Linked DNA regions of Homo sapiens: regions 2 and 3 are each reported to be linked to region 1. Evidence: microRNA targets listed by miRTarBase, many of them from high-throughput screens and not tested one by one. Region 1 holds a microRNA gene; each other region holds the end of a gene's coding sequence.

The links. The annotated mature microRNA hsa-miR-664a-5p reads ACUGGCUAGGGAAAAUGAUUGGAU and lies in region 1 at 2,051-2,074, shown strand. An mRNA with a match to its seed (bases 2 to 7 or 8) in the 3' UTR can be bound and repressed. Matches are read on the target gene's strand: a 7mer-m8 pairs with bases 2 to 8, a 7mer-A1 pairs with bases 2 to 7 and ends in A, and an 8mer does both.
Region 2: miRTarBase lists ZSCAN22 as a target of hsa-miR-664a-5p. Seed matches in the 3' UTR shown: 7mer-m8 at 2,158-2,164.
Region 3: miRTarBase lists CRAMP1 as a target of hsa-miR-664a-5p. Seed matches in the 3' UTR shown: 7mer-A1 at 2,192-2,198.

The regions. Positions count from the first base shown.
Region 1 is chr1:220,199,407-220,202,659 of GRCh38, reverse strand. It overlaps MIR664A (microRNA 664a), which reads left to right and starts at 2,041; the gene lies at 2,041-2,122. It overlaps RAB3GAP2 (RAB3 GTPase activating non-catalytic protein subunit 2), which reads left to right. Exons shown (of 35, transcript NM_012414.4): 9 at 286-384. It overlaps SNORA36B (small nucleolar RNA, H/ACA box 36B), which reads left to right and starts at 1,984; the gene lies at 1,984-2,114.
Region 2 is chr19:58,338,533-58,341,785 of GRCh38, forward strand. It overlaps ZSCAN22 (zinc finger and SCAN domain containing 22), which reads left to right. Exons shown (of 3, transcript NM_181846.3): 3 at 1-3,253. The coding sequence ends at 794. Among named protein-coding and RNA genes, the nearest start is that of MIR6806, 5.5 kb to the left of the region's middle. RefSeq lists an enhancer at 1-480.
Region 3 is chr16:1,673,745-1,676,997 of GRCh38, forward strand. It overlaps CRAMP1 (cramped chromatin regulator 1), which reads left to right. Exons shown (of 21, transcript NM_020825.4): 21 at 137-3,253. The coding sequence ends at 301. Among named protein-coding and RNA genes, the nearest start is that of JPT2, 2.9 kb to the right of the region's middle.

The DNA.
Region 1 (3,253 bases):
GAATTCCCTTTGATTTTTAGTAGTAGTCTAGGATTTTTAATAGTCTTCTTTAATTACTGGAGTGTTCCAGAATCTTTTGTGACAGCCAACTTAGTCTTTTAAATGTTTGCATTTTACGTGCATTGTCTTGGTGTGAATAAATCTCACCTTATGCCTTGTTTTCATTACTTTGTGTCATTATTAGCTGAAATTTTAGAATAACAAATTAGTATGGTTTTAATGTTTTTTTGTAAAACTTCATTTTATCCATAATAAGTTTGGATTGTCTTATTTTATCTTTGGTAGCTGCAGCATCAGGCAATGAGAACATACAACCACCACCATTAGCTTATAAGAAATGGGGTCTACAAGATATTGACACTATTATTGATCATGCTAGTGTTGGTAAGTATTACTAATTCAAATTCTCTTGGAATTTACTTCTTACACTTTTTATTGAAGTATCTCATTTATTAGAAATGGGCATTTATTCTTTATTTATTATTATTATTTTTTAAGATGGAGCTTTGCTCTGTCACCCAGGCAGGAGTGCAGTGGCATGATCTCAGCTCACTGCAACCTCCACCTTCCAGGATCAAGTGATCCTCCCACCTCAGCCTCCCAAGTAGCTGAGATTACAAGCATGCGCCACCCCGCCTGGCTGATTTTTGTATTTTTAATAGAGACGGGATTTCATCATGTTGGCTGGGTTGGTCTTGAACTCCTGACCTCACCCGCCTCAGCCTCCCAAAGTGCTGAGATTACAGGCGTGAGCCACTGCACCCGGCCAAAATTTATTCTTATGTGAAAAAATGCATTGCCTTTAGTGAGACATCTGGAAGTTAGTTCAGATTCAGATCATCATAGGCATATATCTTTAAAACTGGGCATGATGGCTAACACCTGTAATCCCAGCACTTTGGGAGGCCGAGGTGGGTGGATCACATGAGGCCAGAAGTTCAAGATTAGCCCGACCCACATAGTGAAACCCCGTCTCTACTAAAAATACAAAAATTAGCCAGGTGTGGTGGTGCACACCTGTATTCCCAGCTACTTAGGAGGCTGAGGCAGGAGAATTGCCTGAACCCGGGAGGTGGAGGTTGCAGTGAGCCAAGATCACGCCACTGCACTCCAGCCTGGGTGACAGAGCGAGACTCTGTCTCAAGAAAGCAAAACAAAAACAAAAAGAAATGGTAGCAGTTTTAATAAAGATTTAATTATGCCCTCAGCCACAGTATTGTACAGTTTTAAGTCACTCACTGTTTGACTAATTTTTCTACAGACAAATTTGGTCTATATAATGACCATATAAATCAGTCTTAAAAATGTAACCTTGGTCAAGTGTGGTGGCTTGCACCTGTAATCTCAGCTACTCAGAAGGCTGAGGTAGGAGGATCTCTTGAGCCCAAGAGTTCAAGACCAACCTGGGCAATATAGCGAGACCCCATCGCTTAAAAAAAAAAGTAACCTTTAAACTAGTAAAATATAGATAAAAGCAGATTTCTTCTTGCAGCCACTATAAGAGAGCTTACTGTGTTAGGTACTGAGGGTATAGAGATGTAAAGACATGCTTCTCTGTTGTCTGAAAGTGTGAGTCTAGGAGCCTGGTTAGAAGAAACACATGAGAATGGCTACAATACTACAACATAGTAATTGTAACAGACAAGGGGACCAGCTGTAGTGGGAGCAGAGGAGGACACACTTATTGTTTCTCCAGCACACCATACACTTTTATCCCTAGATCTATGTGCATGTGGGCTAGAATGCCTCCTCTGTGTTTGTTCACTTGGTCAAGTTCTACTCATTCTATGCAAACTGGACACTGGGAGAGAAAGAGCAAGGAGAAGAGGAAGGAGAGTGACTCTAAAGAGGCTAAGGATATCTGACACACAGGCCATCTTTCTATTTACTGCATAGCTCTTACATGGAATACTCTGTAATAAAAACCTATTGGTAAACATTTCAGTGTGTCTACTTTTTTGCTAGCATAAAAATGCTGCAAAATTCCAAAGTGTTAAGTTCAGTTCAGGGTAGCTTCCCTGCTCTGTTAATTAAACTTTGGAACATTGAAACTGGCTAGGGAAAATGATTGGATAGAAACTATTATTCTATTCATTTATCCCCAGCCTACAAAATGAAAAAAGGTACAATAAACGTTATTGTATGTACATCTTTATGTAGAGGTCTGGTTAATTTATTCAACAAATAAATGAGTACCTATTAATATTTGTGCTAGAAATACAAGATAGGACCCCACCCTGATAAAGCTTACGTTTTGGTGATGGGGAGACAAACAATAAACTAAATGAATATCAAACTCTTAGTGGGCATCATGAAGAAAATAAGTAGGTTATGGTAGAGAGTAAAGGAAGAGGGTGCTTTAGGTAGACTAGTGAGGAAAGGCCTCTCCAAGGACATGACATTCAGACTGAGACTTGAAGGATGAGAAGGAGCCAGCTATGGAAAGAGGTGTAGGAAGAGCATTCTAGGTAGAGGAGCATCAGGGATATAGGCCTGGGAGCCTTGAAGACCTCAGAGTGTTCAAGAAACAGAAAGGGGGTTGGTGTGACTTGACTGTAAAGAGTGAGGGGAAAACAGGACAAGGTTAGGTTGGAGATGCAGACTGGGGTTAGATCACGTAGGGATAAGGAGATCCGATTTTATTCTAAATGCAGTGGATGTCACTGATGGATTCTAAGTAGGGGATTACATTTAAACATATCTCCCTGTTTGCTGGGTAGAGAGATGCTTGTAGAAGAAAGCAAGGAGACCAGTTATTGCAATAATTCACCCAAGAGAGAATGATGGCTTTATGGTGGAGGCAGTGGAGTTGGAAGGAAGTAGACAGATTTGAGATACCTTTTGTACTTGCTCAGGGATGGTTTTGAGAAACAAGAGGAAGGAAAGAATTAAGGGTTTCTTAATTTTTAAGTTTGAGCAACGGGCTGGATGATGAGACTGTTTACTGAAATGAGAATAAGGAGGAGGAGAGGAAGAGATTTAAGGTAGTCAAATAAAGAGTTACGTTTTTACAGGTTAACTTCTGACACAGTTAAACATTCAAGTAGAGGTATCAAGTATACGAATTGGACATGAGAGTCAGAAGTTCAGGGAGGAAGCTGGGAATGTACATATAAATTTGAGAGGGAGTGGTTTACTGTGGAATGTTTCGTAGAGTTCAAGAAAAGAAGAAGGTCCATTGGATTTGACAACATGGAGTTATTTACTTACTGACTTTTGATATGAAAGTTACAGTAGAATGGTGAGGATGAAA
Region 2 (3,253 bases), not on the chromosome of region 1:
ACAGTTCTAGTGCGTGGCCAAACCTCACCTCCCAAGAGAAGCCTCCTTCAGAAGACAAATTTGATCTGGTGGATGCTTATGGGACAGAGCCTCCATACACCTACTCAGGGAAGAGGTCCTCCAAGTGTCGCGAGTGTAGGAAGATGTTCCAGAGTGCTTCGGCGCTCGAGGCACACCAGAAGACCCATTCTCGGAAGACCCCATATGCCTGCAGCGAGTGTGGGAAAGCCTTCAGCCGGAGCACTCACCTCGCCCAGCACCAGGTTGTCCACACAGGGGCGAAGCCCCATGAGTGTAAGGAATGTGGGAAGGCCTTCAGCCGAGTCACCCACCTGACTCAGCACCAAAGGATTCATACTGGAGAGAAACCCTACAAATGTGGGGAATGTGGTAAAACCTTCAGCCGCAGCACTCACCTCACCCAGCACCAGCGGGTGCACACGGGGGAGCGGCCCTACGAGTGTGACGCGTGTGGGAAAGCCTTCAGCCAGAGCACGCACCTGACTCAACACCAGCGCATCCACACCGGGGAGAAGCCCTACAAGTGTGACGCGTGTGGCCGAGCCTTCAGCGACTGCTCAGCCCTGATCCGACATCTGAGAATCCACTCTGGAGAGAAGCCATATCAGTGTAAGGTTTGTCCGAAGGCCTTTGCACAGAGCTCCTCCCTCATTGAGCACCAGAGGATCCACACGGGAGAGAAGCCTTATAAGTGCAGCGACTGTGGGAAGGCCTTCAGTCGTAGCTCAGCCCTGATGGTTCACTTGCGGATCCACATCACGGTGCTGCAATGACCGGAAGTCGCCCCTGGGGGCGTAGCACAGCGTCTTCTCGGAGGCTCGAGGTCTAAGAGAAACGCTGAGTTCCTGAAGAGCCACAGACAGGGTGGGTGATTGATGAGTTGTCAAAATGATAGGTGCCTGAGGGCAGACTCGGGCTGTCTAGGAACCACTCTGCATTTGAGGAACCCTGATGAGCACAAGGTGATTCAGGCCAGCTGGAGAAGCTTCCAGAAGGGCCCTGCACTGCTACCCTCTATTTCCCACTCAGGGCTGTCCCAGAGAGAAGGCAGCCGAACTGAGGATTTAGACTGGTTCTGAGGGCCAGGGCAAATGAAGGCGCATGTCTCTCAGAACTCAGCGTCCCAAGACGCTCTGGGCGGGCCAACTGTAGCTTGTTCTCATGTGGTTCTTCTTGCCTGCTTTTCTGCTGCTTAGCCCAGAACGGACACCTGCCATGCCCACCTCTGTGCCTTGGCACCTACTATTTCCACTCCAGACTATTTTGTGCCTAACTGCAAGGCTGACTTTTGAGACTGCCTCTTCCACGATGCCTTTTCTACACTCTGCCTCTCTCATGGTTTCCTGTCGTAATCAGTGGTGCTGCTTGACACCTGCCCAGCATGTTCCTGTCTCTCCTTTTCCTTCCACATCCCACCAGTCACCAGCGCTATTGTTTTAACCTAAAGCTTATCTGTAATTCACCTCCTTTTCCACCACTGCTACCTTATGTGAGCCCTCATTGCCTCTTGCCTGGATTATAGCCGGGGTCTCCTTCCTGACCACTTCCTGCCTTTATTCTCTGCCCCTGTATCACTCTCCAGGGGACTCTTGATATTACTTAGATCTGACTGTGTCACTCCAAGGTGGAAAGCTCTCCAACCCATCTTCTACAGCACAGCTTCCTGAACAGGGTATAAGTATGCTGAGATGCAGGCTGCTCTGGGCCCCGAGCAACCTCTCCAGTTATCCTCATATGCATGTATGAATACTGTCATTTTTCTGTGCGTGCAGTGAAAATGGCCTCATCTCATACCATGGCTCCACCTTCCATACACCAGCCACACGGAACTACTGTGGTCCCTGAAGGAGCCATACATTTTCCCACTTATGTGCCTTTGTACCTGTGCCTGGAACCCTCCTCTTCTTTTTCTTTTTCTTTTCTTTTCTTTTTTTTTTTTTGAGATGGAGTCTCGCTCTGTCGCCCAGGCTGGAGTGCAGTGGCGCGATCTCGGCTCACTGCAAGCTCTGCCTCCCGGGTTCATGCCATTCTCCTGCCTCAGCCTCCCAAGTAGCTGGGACTACAGGCGCCTGCCACCACGCCCAGCTAGTTTTTTTTTTTTTTTGTATTTTTAGTAGAGATGGAGTTTCACCATGTTAGCCAGGATGGTCTCGATCTCCTGACCTCGTGATCCACCCGCCTCGGCCTCCCAAAGTGCTGGGATTACAGGCGTGAGCCACCGCACCTGGCCCTCCTTTTTCATCTAAGGTGTTTCAAATGTTGCCCAAAGAAACCTCCCTGCTCTCCGGGAGCAGACTTCAGCTTGCCCTCTCTGCTTCCAGAGCACCTCCTAGATACCTCTCTTACAACTCCTGCCACCTTGTTTTACTTATTTGCTCCTTGTAGAGCTGCCTTTTCCAAGGATACCATAAACTCCTGAGAGCAGGGGCCATGTCTTACTCTCAGTATCTACAACACACAAGACTCAGTAGGCCCTGACTGATGTCTCTTACATGAATGTGACTGGTGCCCCCAGGAGGCAGTCACCGTGCTGTCTCTGCCCCACATTGTCCTTATGTATGTTTACATGGATGTCTCCCCAGCAGCTTGAACCCTGGAGAGCAAGAATAATCTGATTTTCCTGGGGGCCAGCACCCAAATAAGCCTGGCATGCAGTGGCCTCAATAAAATGTGACTGTATTGAGTCATTTTCTAGGGCCCCAGATCCCCTGGTGTCATGGACTTAGTCTTTGCCAGCATTCTGTCCATGTGTTCTCTGGTCTTCTCTCACAATGCTGCATCCCTGTCCCATTTTTAGGGTCCCTGTCTATCACTGGATGCTGCAGCTTCTGTTCATTACTGTTAGTGTATCATTCTTCATGCCTCTGTTTCTGTGATGGTCTCATCATATGTGAACCATTTGACCTGGCGTATTGTGTACTAGTCACCGTCACCATCTCTCCATATGTATCTCCCTGTATTTCGGGCCCATTCCCTCTATGTCAAGAGTAAATAGAGGCACAGAGACTGATGAGAAACGTTCATAACATGAAGGTAAGACTCAGGGAGACAGAGACTTTGTGGAAGTATCTCTGAGGGAGTCCCAGACACAGGCAGAGAGGGCCACATATCGTGTGCCAGAGGCTGAGAGACTGAGAGGGATGACAGGCTTAGGGGAAAACTCAGAGAGGAGAGATGCACATTCCTAGTGAAATTGCACAGGCTTCCAGCATGCTGGAGGGAACAGAAAAGG
Region 3 (3,253 bases), not on the chromosome of region 1:
CCCTGGGCTGCCATCCCTAGCTTAGCTTCCTGCAGCGGGAGTCGATAGGAGCTTCTCGTCCTGTTTCAGGACCCGCCCTCCACTGAAGGGCCAGCAGGTCGCGGTGACTTGTTCTTCCTGTCTCCTCTTCCTGCAGGTTGTGGATTCCCAGCTGGTGTGCATGATGAACGAAAACAGCATTGATTACATTTCTCGGTTCAATGACCTGGCCCAAGAGCTGTCCATCGCTGAGCCTGGCCGCCGAGAAGCTCTGTTTGATGGTGGTGGAGGCGGCCCCGCTGTCAGTGACCTGTCCCAGTGACCACACGTCCTGGTGGCGGATGAAGCCCTCTTCGAGCTAGAGAAAAATAGATAAGCCCAGCAGCCCCAGAAGATGGTCTGAACAGAGGCATCTCCGCACCCAAGACTGTGCAACGGGCAGGAACGTGGTCACAGAGCTGCTTCCCCACGAGCAGCAGGCAACGGCGTCCAAGGAGACTAGGATGAGTTCTTGGCAAGGGCCAGCGTTAGAAATCACTGTGGTACTAGAGCCGTTCTTCACCACGCCTGGGCCCATGTTAGGGTCTGCATAATGATCCCATTTCAGCCTGTGCTCTGCCTCGATTGTTGTGTTGGACATTCCGGTGGCATTTCCTTCTGAGACAAGGGAGTATGTGTGCCTTGGTGTAGTTGCTGTGCACTAGGAGCTGTGATCTCCCTCTCTGCAGGGAGGCCCCAGCCCCTGCTGCTTGCTTTCTGCCAAACCTGTGCTATGCATCAGCTGTGCCCTCTGTGGACTGTAACGGGCAGGACAGTTGGGTGTGGCCTGGGCTCATGCCTGGTGGTGTCACATCCCAAGGCAGCAAGAGCATGGATACCGATCACAGGGCTGCTGCGGAGTCGTGGGGCCCTGGGCTGGTGCCTCCCCTCCCTAGAGGTTTTGTTCGTACTCTTAACAGGGAGTGGGGGCAGGAAGAGTCCTGTACTATGCAGGTTGTGTGGACTTTACATGGGACCCTGCTAAGCTGGTTGAAAATGTTTTTCTTGTGTTTTAAGAATTAGGAGACATGGAAGAGGAAGAACAAAGTCCCCTCTGTAGTTGGTTTCCTTCCTGTGTCCCTTTGCAAGCTTCCAGGCGATCTAAGGTGTCATTTCTCCCTCCTGGGGTGACCCTTAGGCGCTAATATGATTACAGCGAAGACTTTCCTGATAAGTTCTCAAACTCGATGTGTGACTGTTTGGCACTTGAGACAAACCTGCCTTTGCAGGGAAAGTGTCTCTCACGGGCATTGGTGTGGGCGTGCCTGACATACGTGTTCAGTCCCTTGCATACCTTTGCCTTGAGACTTCTGTGTCTCCTTCCCATTTGGGACACCCAGGTGAGGGCCCAGACATCTGGATGTGGTCAGACCTCACCAAATATATGCCTTCGTGGTGGTCTCCCTCCTTGCGCCCTCTTGGGTGGCCAGCGTTCCTACTGCAGACGGCCCAACATCCAGTCTTTCCCCAGGACAGAGCTAACAAGGGCCCCTTTGCCTTCTCATCCTCAGGAGTTCCAGGCACATGAGTCACCGTCCATCCACATCCAGTGTGGCCTGGAGCTGCTACAGAGGTGTTGGGCAGGCCATGCCTGTGCCGCCATCTCTCCCTTCCTGCCTCATTTCATCCCCCGCAGCAGCCGGGATTGATTGTGCTTTCCTAACCCCCTTGGACCTACTCTCCCTCCTCCCCACCATTCCTCTTCCCCCACATGTGTGGCACGCTGCAGCCCTCAAGGCCAGCCCTGGCCCCTCCACTGCTTCTCTCCCCATCCACAATGGAGAAGGTGAAAAGAGGAGGGAAAGGCCTTTGGTGTGGACAAGCATGTGGACGCCCTCCGTCCTGCAGTCTTGCCAGCCCACCACAGCCACTGTAGACCACAGGCAGGCCGTGTACTGCACCACTGGGAGGACGTGGAGAGGACAGTGAACTTCCAGGCAAGAGCTTCCTTCTTTTGTCTCACGAGTTTTTCTTAGAGCTCTTGCCTGAGCTGGCTTCCCTCCTTCAGACATTGACATGAGATCTTAAGCAAACAGTCCCAAACCTCTTAGGGGTGAAAAAAGAAACATGCCACTTGATTAGGAGAGAGACAGCAGTGTTTGAACTACAGCATCTTTACACTAGCTTGTGTTTTGTGCTACGTATACCAGCTTCCAAAATTAGCATCTCATTGAGCCAGAGAAGACAAGGAGATCTCCCTCTGGGCATCTGGCTTTGCTGCGTCTCTAGAGGGTTAGGATACCAGGCCGAGTTCAGGCCACTGCTAGCTTTCTCATACTCCCACAGGCTAGACCAGAGATGCCAAGTCCCAACAGCACTGAGCTGTGTGCACTGTGCCAGGGACAGGAGGGTTTGTGAACTGCCTGTCAGGGTACCTGTTAGCCCCTGACAACTCAGTGGGGTGAAGTTTTGGAGGTCAGAGTCTGCTTTCGTAGGCTCTTTAGACAGCACCTACCACTTGGTTCTCCAGCGTAGACTCCTGGGAGCAGCCAACTGCAGCCATTGCCATCCAGTGGGGAGATGGGTTAGGGAGGAGGACGGGCTGACTCCTCTCCTGTAATAAAGCTGACAAGAGTTCTAGAGGATTCTGCTTCTCTAGTAACTAGACAGGTGATACGCATTTGCTTGCCACATTAAGGGAAAATGGTGTCATTTGTTGCAGAAAAACAATGGATACATTTTCTTCTGGCCTAAATGAATATTTATGTGCAAACATAGGCAACTGTTAAAGGCTGGAATTTTCAAAAGATCCAAACAGAGACTTCCTGCATCTTCTGCCTTTCCAACAGAAGCGGTGATCGTCTAAGTATGAGCCTGTGGCTTCCTTTGTGCATTTGAGCATGCTGTAATTAAGATGAGATCAGTTTCTTAGAAAAAGCTTTCCTGAATCCCTCTGACGTTGCCTGGGATCTTTCTGTTGATTCGTCTTTTCTGGAGATTGGGACAGAGCATCTGTGGTCCAGGGAAGTTAGTCCTCTGGCCTCAATTCTGTTGTGGATGTGCAGTGATAAGCGGGCATTGCGTGCCTCGGGGGATGCCTAGTTCGTGGCTTCCTGGCTGTTTTGTCCTTCTGTGTCTTGTAGCTGTAGGGTGCCAGCTCAGGGAGTGGGGTGTTGGCGGCGTTTCCGCGGTTGGCCTCCTTGCTTTGCCGCACCTCCAGGTTCTGGGCATGAGAGGCCGTGGCCTCATTTCTGGTGGATAACCTTTTTAGTTTAATAGCATCTTTAATTAGATC